Linked DNA regions of Homo sapiens: region 2 is linked to region 1. Evidence: fine-mapped expression QTL. A gene starts in region 1. The other region holds a variant in brackets. All regions are shown on one strand. Distances are between the middles of the regions.

Region 1 (5,375 bases):
GATCAGACTCTTTAGGAGAAAACTACATTGTGTGAGTTTGCAAAGTTTCATACTTTCCCATTTAAACTCCATTTCAGAGAAAGCCTTTGCATACTAACACAATATGCTTTAAAATGGTACTTTGCTGACCTTCCAATAGTCCAGCTCTATGAAAATTCTGTGATGGGTGTAACTTCAGAGAATCTGAAAAACACAAAAAGCATTAGGTACTTTTTATGCTGAATGAGGAAAAAAATGCCAAGGATAGCATACATCTCTTATATAACTGCAATGTGTGTGTGTGTATATATATATATATATACACACACACACACACACACACACACACACATATATATATATACACACATACATTTTGAAACGGAGTTTCGTTCTTTTTGCCCAGGCTGGAGTGCAATGGTGCGATCTCGGCTCACCGCAACCTCCGCCTCCCGGATTCAAGTGGTTCTCGTGCCTCAGCCTCCCGAGTAGCTGGGATTACAGGCATGCACCACCACGCCCGGCTAATTTTGTATTTTTAGTAGTGACGGGGTGACGGGGTTTCTCCAAATTGGTCAGGCTGGTCTCAAACTCCCGACCTCAGGTGATCCAACTGCCTCGGCCTCCCACAGTACTGGGAATACAGGCGTGAGCCACTGCGCCCGGCCAACTGCAGTGTATTTTTAAGCGCTAAAGCCCATATTTGTGAATATATTCCCCGCAAAAGAGGCTGAATTGTCTCTACATTGGTCTCGAAGCTAAACTTAGATTTTCATAAAGTATATGTTTCATGGAAAATTATCTGATGATTACTCCCCAAATGGTGTTAATGTCTTGGCTATTTTTAGCACTCAATTCTAACACATTAGCCCTGCTCTAAGAATCATCTCTTGATATGTCTCTTTTTTTTTTGACATTCAAAACTACAATATTTCTAAAGTACCTCAGGTAATGTTGCCCGAAAAACATCCTACAGGATGGTGGCTGCCAACTAAAGTCATTGGAGCAACAGACAGTGGCTACAATTACTAAGTAGGACTCTGTGTACAAAATCAATGGTCAGTCTGTAAAGTCCAGCACCTTTCAGAGTAAACCATCTCACTCTGATTCACTTAAACAATTTAGATACACTAGTAGGAAGGTGAAGTCCCTTTTTTGGAGGGGGTGGAATAAGCAAATGGATGGATACATCAAACCAAAAGCAGAAGAAACACCTACATTTTTTTTTACACGGTGAAATGAATAGTTAACAACCCAGTTATGTCTTTTGCCCCCTCCCGGTGGTTTAAAAAGCGTAAAGAGCGCAGTGGGAATATTTTGGTTTTGAAGCCCCTTGCACAGGGAACCTGTTCTGACACATTCTTGTGGTGTCCAGTAAAGGAATTTCACCTGAGTAGGGATCAGCTCCAGTGCTAATATTTCAGATGCTGGGAATCCCCTGCAGGCCTTAGCCAAAAGAGTTCTTAAATGAAAAGTCTCTGCCTGAGCTCCCTCCCTGCAACCAGCCCTTGAACGGAAAAGCAGAGAAAATTCTCAAAGGACAGCGTCTGTGCCTGGGCTGGTCCTCCTGGGAGAGGAGAGGAATAAAACCAATCCAGAGAGGGCACCCCCATCTTTGTAAAGGAGAAGGGAGAAGTAATTAGAATGCCACGGAGGTGGGAAGAGAAAAAAAAAGAAAAGAAAATTCGGGCCCTTTCCATCGGGCCCTTTCCAGCAAGAAGATGACGAGGAAAGGAAGAACGCCTGGTCGAGGGGGGCTGTCCCAACATGGGGAGGGAGTGGACTAGGCCGGAGGGAGAGGGGGTGGAACGACGGCGCAAAAACAAGCTGGAAAGGGAGGAAAATGGTGACCCTGCACTCAGAACCGGCTCCAGGCCACGCCGCCCGCTTGGGGGCAACTTTGCTGGGGAGGAGGGTCCCGGTAAGAGAAGACGCGGCGCCCCGATCGCGGTGGCCCCAGCGCGGGGCCCAGTCTGGGGCCATCCCCGAGCCCGGGAGGCCGGGGCCGGCGGCTCGCGGAGCCTGGCGGGGCCGGACGGGCTGAGAGCGGCTAGAAGCGACCGGTGCCGCAGAGCCCCGGGGGCCGACGGAATCTGGGCCCCGAGCGGCCGGCGGCTCCGCGGGGGAGGGGCCGCCACTGCTCCGCCCGCCCCCTCCACCGTCACCCCGATCCCTTCGGCCTCTGCCCGCTCCGGCCAAAGAAGCCATGGGGGTCGCGGCTCAGCCGCCCCCGGCGGGACGGGGACCCCTCGCCTCCCCTGGCCCTGTCTCCCTGTCTCCCTGTCTCCCCGCCCCCACGCCCCACCCCCCACAGCCTGACTCACCTCGCGAGTAGAGGGACTTGGGCGATTCCAGGTCTAGGTCCGCGCTGAGCAATGAGATGAAGTCCGAGGGCATCGCAGCTCGACCCAGCCCGGCCCGAGGGCAGCGGGAGGGGGGGAGCGGCGGTGGCGGCGGCACCTCCTCTCCGGGACCGCGGGCACCGAACCGGGGGCGGCGACGCGAGGGCGGCTGCCGCTGCCTCCTCCTCGAGGGTAGTGACTTCCACTGGGCCGAGGACCGAGGAAACGATGGCGAGGTGGAGGGGGAACTCCACGGGGACTGATTCTCGGTGACCAGGAGAGGGGTTCAGGACGGGGAAGGGGAAGGGGGAGAGCCAAAGGGTCCGTTTCGTGTTTCTCCTCAGCGAAAACTGACGGTCGCCGCCACCGCCGCCGCCGCTGACAGGAATCTGAGCCCCGCCCCCGTGGGGCACAGCGCAGGCGCGGAGGGGGGTGCCCGGGAGCGCGGAAGAGCCGTGGCGGCCCCCGGAGGGCGGGGAGGCGCGCCAGGGAACAGCAGCAACATGGGCCTCGCTTCCTGCCGGCGCGGCCCGGGCTGCTGCTGTTCCTGAGCCGGGAAAGGGCCCCGCTGCCAGGGTGGGAGGGGGGGAGGCTGGGAGGTGGCCGCGCGCTGGGGCCCCGGGGAGGGAAAAGGTATTTGCAACGACCTGGTGGCGGCGAGCCTGAGGCGGCCGGCCCCGAGCAGAGCTGAGCGCAGGAGACAGAGCCGAGAGAAGCGAGAGGTCTGCGCGAGCCGGGGACGGACCCCAGAGGCCGGCGGCGGACGGGCCTGGCTGGCCCGGGGTCTCGCAGGGGACCGGAGTGTCATCGCCCGGACAGCCGCCAACCCTTTGGGGTTTGCATAGCAGTGTGTACAAAGGGACTGTCAAACCCATTTCTTAATTAGGAAATGGCAAACCGTATCCCAAAAACCTCGAGTTATTGATTTTTAATTAAAGTACTTTCTCCCCTAACACTCCCCTCCTACCTTTGGAGGCTGAAATTTTTTTTAAAAAAAACGATCTCTCTGATTGTGCTGGGGCATCCGGGTTATTCGGAGTGGGACATAGAAGACAATTAAAAAATTGGATCATGTGAATCCACCTGGCTGTTCTAGAGGAAAAACAGGTAAAAAGCAAACCTCAACGCTACTCTTCCAAACAGTTTTTCTTTTTTCTGTTTCTTTTTTTTTCCTTTTGGACTAGGCAAAGATGGAGGAAGAACGCATTTAACTGAGTTTTTGCTCTTGCTTTTCTGTTCGTGGAGCCAAAAGTTTCCGTTGCAAAAATTTAAAATCCTCACCCACACCGCAGAGCGTTTTCTGATTCTAATAGACTTCTGAGAAATTTTTAATCAAGTTATTGAAATATTACCTGGAGTGCAGGGTGTGCATCTTGGGAAGTAATTTTAATCTTGTGTGGAATATTGATGCCAGTAGCCACGTGGGCATGGTTTTTAAGCTATTCGAATGGTTTCGTTTTTTATCTACAAGGATAGTTACAACTCATGAAAATCAGTCTGTTGTAATATGTGTATGTGTATATATATGCACACATATATATACATACATATATACACACATATATACATATATATATAATTATAGAGACTTTTTCCCATGAAATTGAGCAGTTCTCGGGACTTGGAGTGCTAGGGTTGGGGTAAGAAGCTCTCAGCAAAGGAGGGCCCAGTACAGATGTCGCTGAGGCAAGGCCCTTTACAAAGTTTTACCTGTAGACCTAGAATTTAAACGTGTGTCATCAGAGCTCACCTATCTTTCATCTCAACATTTGATTCAGGTTGCCCAGTTGTCTTCACTGAATTGTGTGTAGTAATCAATCCTGTGAACATTTTTCTTTTGTCGGAGGTTCAGAAAGCTTTTCAGAGCCACCCCAAGATGGCAAAGCAGAACAAGAAACTGCCCTCAAATTGCCATCTCTGCTGTATGGTGTCGTGACAAGTCCCAAGGGAAGTCCCTTCATAACTGATAAGAGCCCCACTCATTTGAGAGAGAAAGATTGAAACCTCACATTGCCCAACAGGCCAAGGCCTACTGAAATCCTATAGCTTCTGAATTGGAGTAAACACACCTCTTGGAGACCCCCCATACGCCACCCATTAGTCAGTATACAGGGTAGCAGAGAGGAAATGCGATTCACCACCCGATACTAAGAAAGTTGACTGAATCACTCTGAGCAGATCCCTTTTCCCCAGACCGATGTAATCACTTAACAAACTTAGGGTATAGGAAATCCCCAGTACGGTTCTGACCCTAATTAACTAGTCAAGAACTGGCAAGGCCTCTTCCTTTTTCTGTGAATCCTTCTCTGCCCTTTTGTGACCTTTTTATTCCCCGTTGAGGCTTTGTTGTATATGTTAATCAGATTTCCCCTGATTAGGTAAGAGCAAAGTGAAGAGAGGCCCACCAAAGTGTGGCTTGACCTAAACTGCGAATTCCCTGAGAGGGATTCTGTGGGCTCAGGCCTCACTTACCTCATTAGGTCCTGCATTAAGCACGGATTATATCTAAATAGGTATTTGAAAAATCAGTGTCCACTCCCACCCCCTGCACCTGTCTTCTTACAGAGATATATTCTCTTTTTTGTTTGTTTTTTTAAGATGGAATTTCACTCTTGTTGTCCAGGCTGGAGTGCAGCAGTGCAATCTCGGCTCACTGCAACCTCTGCCTCCCTGGTTCAAGTGATTCTTCTGCTTCAGCCTCCTGAGTAGCTGGGGTTACAGGCGCCCACCACCATGCCCGGCTAATTTTTTGTATTTTTAGTAGAGATGGGGTTTCACCATGTTGGCCAGGCTGGTGTCGAACTCCTGACCTCAGGTGATCCACCCGCCTTGGCCTCCCAAAGTGCTGGGATTACAGGCATGAGCCACGGCACCTGGCCTATATTCTTTTCTTTTCTTTTTTTTCTTTTCTATTCTTTCGGGTTTTTTTGTTTGTTTATTTTTTTGAGACAGGGTCTTGTTCTGTTGCCCAGGCTGGAGTGTAGTGGCAGCTTCATAGCTCAGTGCAGCTGCAGACTGAAACTCCTCCCGGGCTCAAAGTGATCCTTCACCTCA
Region 2 (5,375 bases), 120 kb after region 1:
GACGACAGGTGTGCACCACCACGCCCAGCTAATTTTTGTATTTTTAGCAGAGACAGGGTTTTACCATGTTGGCCAAGATGGTCTTGACCTCGTGATCCACCCAGCTGGGCCTCCCAAAGTGCTCGGATTACAAGCGTGAGCCACCGCCCCCAGCCCAAAAGATGTTAATAAACTGACAAGAAATAATGATGAATAAAAAAAAAATTTTTTTTGAGACAGGGTCTCGTTCTGTCACCCAGACTAGAGTGCACTGGCACAATCTTGGCTCACTGCAACCTGTGCCTCCCAGGTTCAAGCCATTCTACCGCCTCATCCTCCCATGTAGCTGGGACACCACCATTCCCAGCTAATTTTTGTATTTTTAGTAGAAACGGGGTTTCGCCATGTTGGCCGGGCTGGTCTCGAACTCCTGGCCTCGTGTGATCCGTCCACCTCAGCCTCCCAAAGTGCTGGGACTACAGTCGTGAGCCACAGTGTGCAGCCAACAAATAAAATTTTTAAGTAAAGAGAAGCAAGGTGAAGAATAGTATGTATGAGGCTTTTTACCTTTTTTTTTTTTTTTTTTTTTGAGGCGGAGTCTCGCTCTGTCGCCCAGGCTGGAGTGCAGTGGCGCGATCTCAGCTCACTGCAAGCTCCACCTCCCGGGTTCACGCCATTCTCCTGCCTCAGCCTCCCGAGTACCTGGGACTACTCAAATTTTGGGCCTCCCCAAATGCTGGGATTACAGGCTTGAGCCACCGCGCCCGGCCAGCTTTTTACTTTTTTAAAGGAAATGATGGTTGGTTTGTCTGTCTATCCATCCATCCATCCTTATGAATGCATGGAATCTTTGGAAGAGTAAACAACAACAAAAAAATGATGGCTGGTTACCTCCAGGGAAGGGGAACTAAAAGTCTCAGAGCTGGATATACGAGGGAATTTTTTTTTTTTTTTTTTTTTGAGACGGCGTCTCGCTTTGTCGCCCAGGCTGGAGTGCAGTGGCGCGATCTCTGCTCACTGCAAGCTCCACCTCCTAGGTTCACGCCATTCTCCTGCCCCGAGTAGCTGGGACTACAGTTGCCCGCCGCCACGGCCGGCTAATTTTTTGTATTTTTAGTAGAGACGGGGTTTCACCATGTTAGCCAGGATGGGCTCTATCTCCTGACCTCGTGATCCGCCCGCCTCAGCCTCCCAAAATGCTGGGATTACAGGCGTGAGTCACCGCCCCCGGCCAACTTTTTTTATAGTATACTGTTTTGAACTATTTAAATTTTTTTTTTACCATGTACATTTTATAATACTCACTCAAAAAAAATGTAATGGGGAACAGGTCAAATTACTAGACCTATTTGACTACAAGATTTAACTAGTAAAGCAGTTGAACTATTATCTAGATAATATCTGTTGAAGAAATGAATGAAATGGTGCCCACTTTTTTAGTCAGGTTACGATTTGTATGCACTTTATCTCTTGAACTGATGGCAGATTAAGTGATAAAACAGCTAACCAAGAAGTAAATACATCATCAAAGAGAGAATTCATAGACCACGAATATTTATAGGTTACTTGCTAAAGAGCAGGCAAGCAGGCAGGCAAACTGGCACAGAGAGCACTGAGTCTGTTTCTAAGGTGAGTTTCCGTAACCAAAAACAAACCAGAAAAATGTTAAGTCAAATATAAGTAGGAGATTGACGGCTCTCAGCATGAGGGTTAATCCAGCAAGGAAGAGATTCACAAAGACAAATGGTTTTTAATTCTAGTTAGTTATTTTTGATTGAAGCGGGTTAAAAAAAAATCTGTTGCTACATCTTTAAGTTTTTAAGTCTTTACGTTTTTAGTATATTAATTCTGGGCCTTCAACTCAGGTACTATCCATCTAACAATAAAACAATGGTGACCATTAATTATTTACCTGTGTTATAAAAGTAATATGAAAGGTGTTTTCTAAAAGAATTAGGGAATGGTTACTGACTTACACTTTGGAATAGCAACATTTTGAGTGTTTCTTTCTTGGCGGGCAGTAGGGATGGTGCAGTTCAGACAGGGAGTAGAAGAAGGAGAAGAAGGAAAATGGAAATGAAAACTCTCTCCCATAGGCTGAAGATACTTTTTAATTTGACTTTTAAAAATCACTTCTTCATAAAGATTCAGAAACCATGAACCAAGAGAAAGGAAGGTAACCAATGAAATGAACTCCATTTCCATTTCTTAATGGTGAATGTTTAAACCAGATAAAGTATGGAGAAGAGAGATACCTACATCCTAGACACCAAGT[C/G]CCTATTTAAACCTCTGTAAGAAATAAATCTGAGAGATCAAGAATTTCTTCCTGGAACTGAAGTCAGGTTGGAATATAGCTCTATAAAAACCTATGTAGGTGGTCTTGAAAATGTTCCAAAAGGCCTTTCTTGCCTGATCTGCCTGAAGTAGAGCAGAGTGACTAGAAACACAATAGCCAGACTCTCTACTTAATGAAGACATGTCCCTTGAGTACAGTGACATGAGGAAAACAGGATTGAAAACACTGCCTTTAGTCACTTTTTAACCCAGATAGGGGCTAAACTACATTTGGAGACTTCTAAATTATTATAGAACTTGGTGAGCTTAAATGCTTTCTTTTTCTATCTTTCTTACAAAAAAATCTAAGGCTCAATAGTTTTTTGGGTTTTTTTTTTTTTTTTTTTTTGAGATGGGGTCATGCTGTGTTACCCAGATGGAAGTGCAATGGTGTTACCATGGCTCACTGCAGCCTCAAACTCCCGGGCTCAAGCTATCCTCCAGCCTCAGCCTCCCCAGTAGTTGGGACTGCAGGCACACATTATAATGCTCAGCTAATTTTATGATTTTTAAAAAATAGAGACAGGGTCTCACCATGTTGCCCAGGCTGGTCTCCAAGTGCTGGGCTCAAGCCATCCTCCCATCTCAGCCTCCCAAAGTGTAGGGATTACAGGCGTGAGCCACTGCACCTGGATGGCTCAATAGTTTTAATTCAGCTGAGAAATCTCTAATCCTTTGGCCTATAGAAGGCAGACAATGCTTACCACAGAAGAGAATTAAATTTTCCTAAGTTTTCAAATGAAAAGATGGGCATATCATTCAGCAAAAAGTTTGGGCTTAGCTACCTACTTATCACCTAGATTACTTAAATTGCAAATTCCTAAACCCTATCTCCAGAGATTCCAAAGCAGTAGGAGTAGAAGCCCAAGAAATAAACATTTCCTATATATATTCATGTACATACCAAGGGATTCCAACTGAGGTGATACAAGAACAGAATTTGGGGAACATTGTTCTACATTCCTAAGAATGGTCCTAACTGTACTACCAAGAAAGAAAAACAGCAACAAGAAGCAATCTGTAGACTTCTAGACATTGTAATTGCAAACATATTTTTTCTATTGTTTTAATATAAAAGATGCTCTCATAGTTGCTGTGCAGAAATGTGTTATGGCTCCTATATCCTTTGAATCAGATGTTGACCTCTGAAAGTGGTATTTTCTGGACATGTTCAATATACAAATCAAGGCCACGCTTCGTTCAAATTTTACCATAATAACACAAGTTATTAAGAGTAAGCAACAACAAAAAATGATGGCTGGTTACCTCCAGGGAAGGGGAACTAAGACACTGAGAGCTTGAGACAGGAAGAAACTTTTTACAGAATACTGTTTTGAACTATTTAATTTTTTTTTTTTAAGGATTCAAGAATGGATAGTACATGTGTTAGGAGGAGAGGACAAACAACCAACAGTTGTTACAAAGTGTTTTAAGAACCATTTCATTCCCCTTTCAGAAACAATTCAATAGTTCAGAGTAGCAGTCTAGCAACATGGAAGAGTTAATTTACACAAACACTCTGGATTGCAGGGCAACAGATGGCAGACACTGTTAAGCAAGCAATCTCTTGAGTTAATAGAATTCTTGTGTCTAGGCCAACTTTAATTGCTGTGTCAAACCTATTCAGTAATTTCGGCTCAATGAGGAATGGGAAGCAAGCAGCAAGGAGGAGGAAAATGGAAGGGAGGCAGCATCACTTTCCTATGTTCTAGGTGGCACCTAAACTGCTGTCCCTTTAAATTAGAGTGCTGTGTACCAGCTATCTGAAGGACAGAAATTAAGGAAAATTGTTAGGGAATAAGGGAAATGAACCACCTAGCATGTGGGAGGCAGAAAATGGTTCCATATTTTCTTCCTGGTATGCAATGTAGTACACATTAAAGTTTTCAAACACTCAAATACTTAGTCTTTTGTTTTCGCTGTATTACTAAGTAACCGGGAAGGGTGTGGGCCTGTTTGAGCCTACAGGAAAAAAGAATTAAATTTGGAAAATAAGTACAGAAAGGCCTCTGTATTACAGATAAAGAAGATAACCTATAAGAAACAAAACAACTTTGCAATTATTTTTTTCCAACACAGAAACAATTATTATCACTTGTCCTACATAATGTAAAAGTAAGATATTTTTCCACAACTGAACCCATAAACTAATTTCTTTCAAAACCACACAGGGCATAGCTTTGGAGTTTCAGTTAAAAAAAAAAAGCGTATAAAGGCATTAGCAAAATGTTTCCTACTGTTCAAGACTCAGCTATTCTTTTATTCCTGAGATGATACTGAGTCCAAATTCCAGAAAAATAGGATTTTTGCTTGGGGAAAAAGTAAATACTTTGTAACTTCTCTTGTTAAGAAAAAATGTTTCAAAAAGCAGTCCTACTTGAGTAAACACAAATATAAACACAAGACAAACCGCTGACTTCTTACCTTGCTACCACTTTCAGGTTTAAGGTCACTCTGTCAAAAAAAGGAAAACAAATAATATTTTAAGACATAGCCAAATGAATTCTCACTATATGCTTGTTTCTAACTTTGGAACATGAGACTATATTCTGGTGATAGTGAATTCCCTGGGAGATTTGAGGATCCATAGAAAGATACCTCTACTCTGAGCATATCAGAGTCCCTTGTTAGAATGGTATATATGGATAGTTTTTAAAGTCCATAATTACTACCTTTAGCAAGGAGCTTGCAAAAACAAGCAAACCACTATTTTAGGTAAAGGTGTTATTAACTGCATTACAAAAATAAATCAACACATAAAAATAATCCAGAATCAGTTCCCTTAGCTTTTTAGAGATATTACATGTGCTACCTGGCAAAGAAGAAGCTATATCCTAGCACAGTAAGACTAGACAATTTTGGAGAAAATTTAGCCTGATGGCTAGATTGAATGAATTTCCATTTTAATAATTTTTTTTTTTTTTTTGAGACAGAGTCTCGCTCTTTCACCCAGGCTGGAGTGCAGTGGTGCAATCTTGGCATACTTCAACCTCTGCCTCCCAGGTTCAGGCAGTTCTCGTGCCTCAGCCTCCTGAGGAGCTGGAATTACAAGTGTGCGCCAC

The links. PIP is the estimated chance that this variant, and not a neighbour inherited with it, causes the effect.
Region 2: its variant is the best candidate, but not a certain one, in a credible set for the expression of NFAT5 in whole blood (GTEx, PIP 0.51).

What each region holds. Positions count from the first base shown.
Region 1 is chr16:69,563,303-69,568,677 of GRCh38, reverse strand. It overlaps NFAT5 (nuclear factor of activated T cells 5), which reads right to left and starts at 2,712. Exons shown (of 15, transcript NM_138713.4): 1 at 2,304-2,712; 2 at 130-183. The coding sequence starts at 2,376. MIR1538 (microRNA 1538) reads left to right here and starts at 2,810; the gene lies at 2,810-2,870. RefSeq lists silencers at 1,917-2,226, 2,247-2,516, 2,811-2,987, 2,707-3,086 and enhancers at 4,206-4,345, 3,748-4,644.
Region 2 is chr16:69,447,507-69,452,881 of GRCh38, reverse strand. It overlaps CYB5B (cytochrome b5 type B), which reads right to left. Exons shown (of 5, transcript NM_030579.3): 3 at 4,738-4,767. Among named protein-coding and RNA genes, the nearest start is that of CYB5B, 26 kb to the right of the region's middle. The variant C/G (reference allele first, on the strand shown) is at 2,255.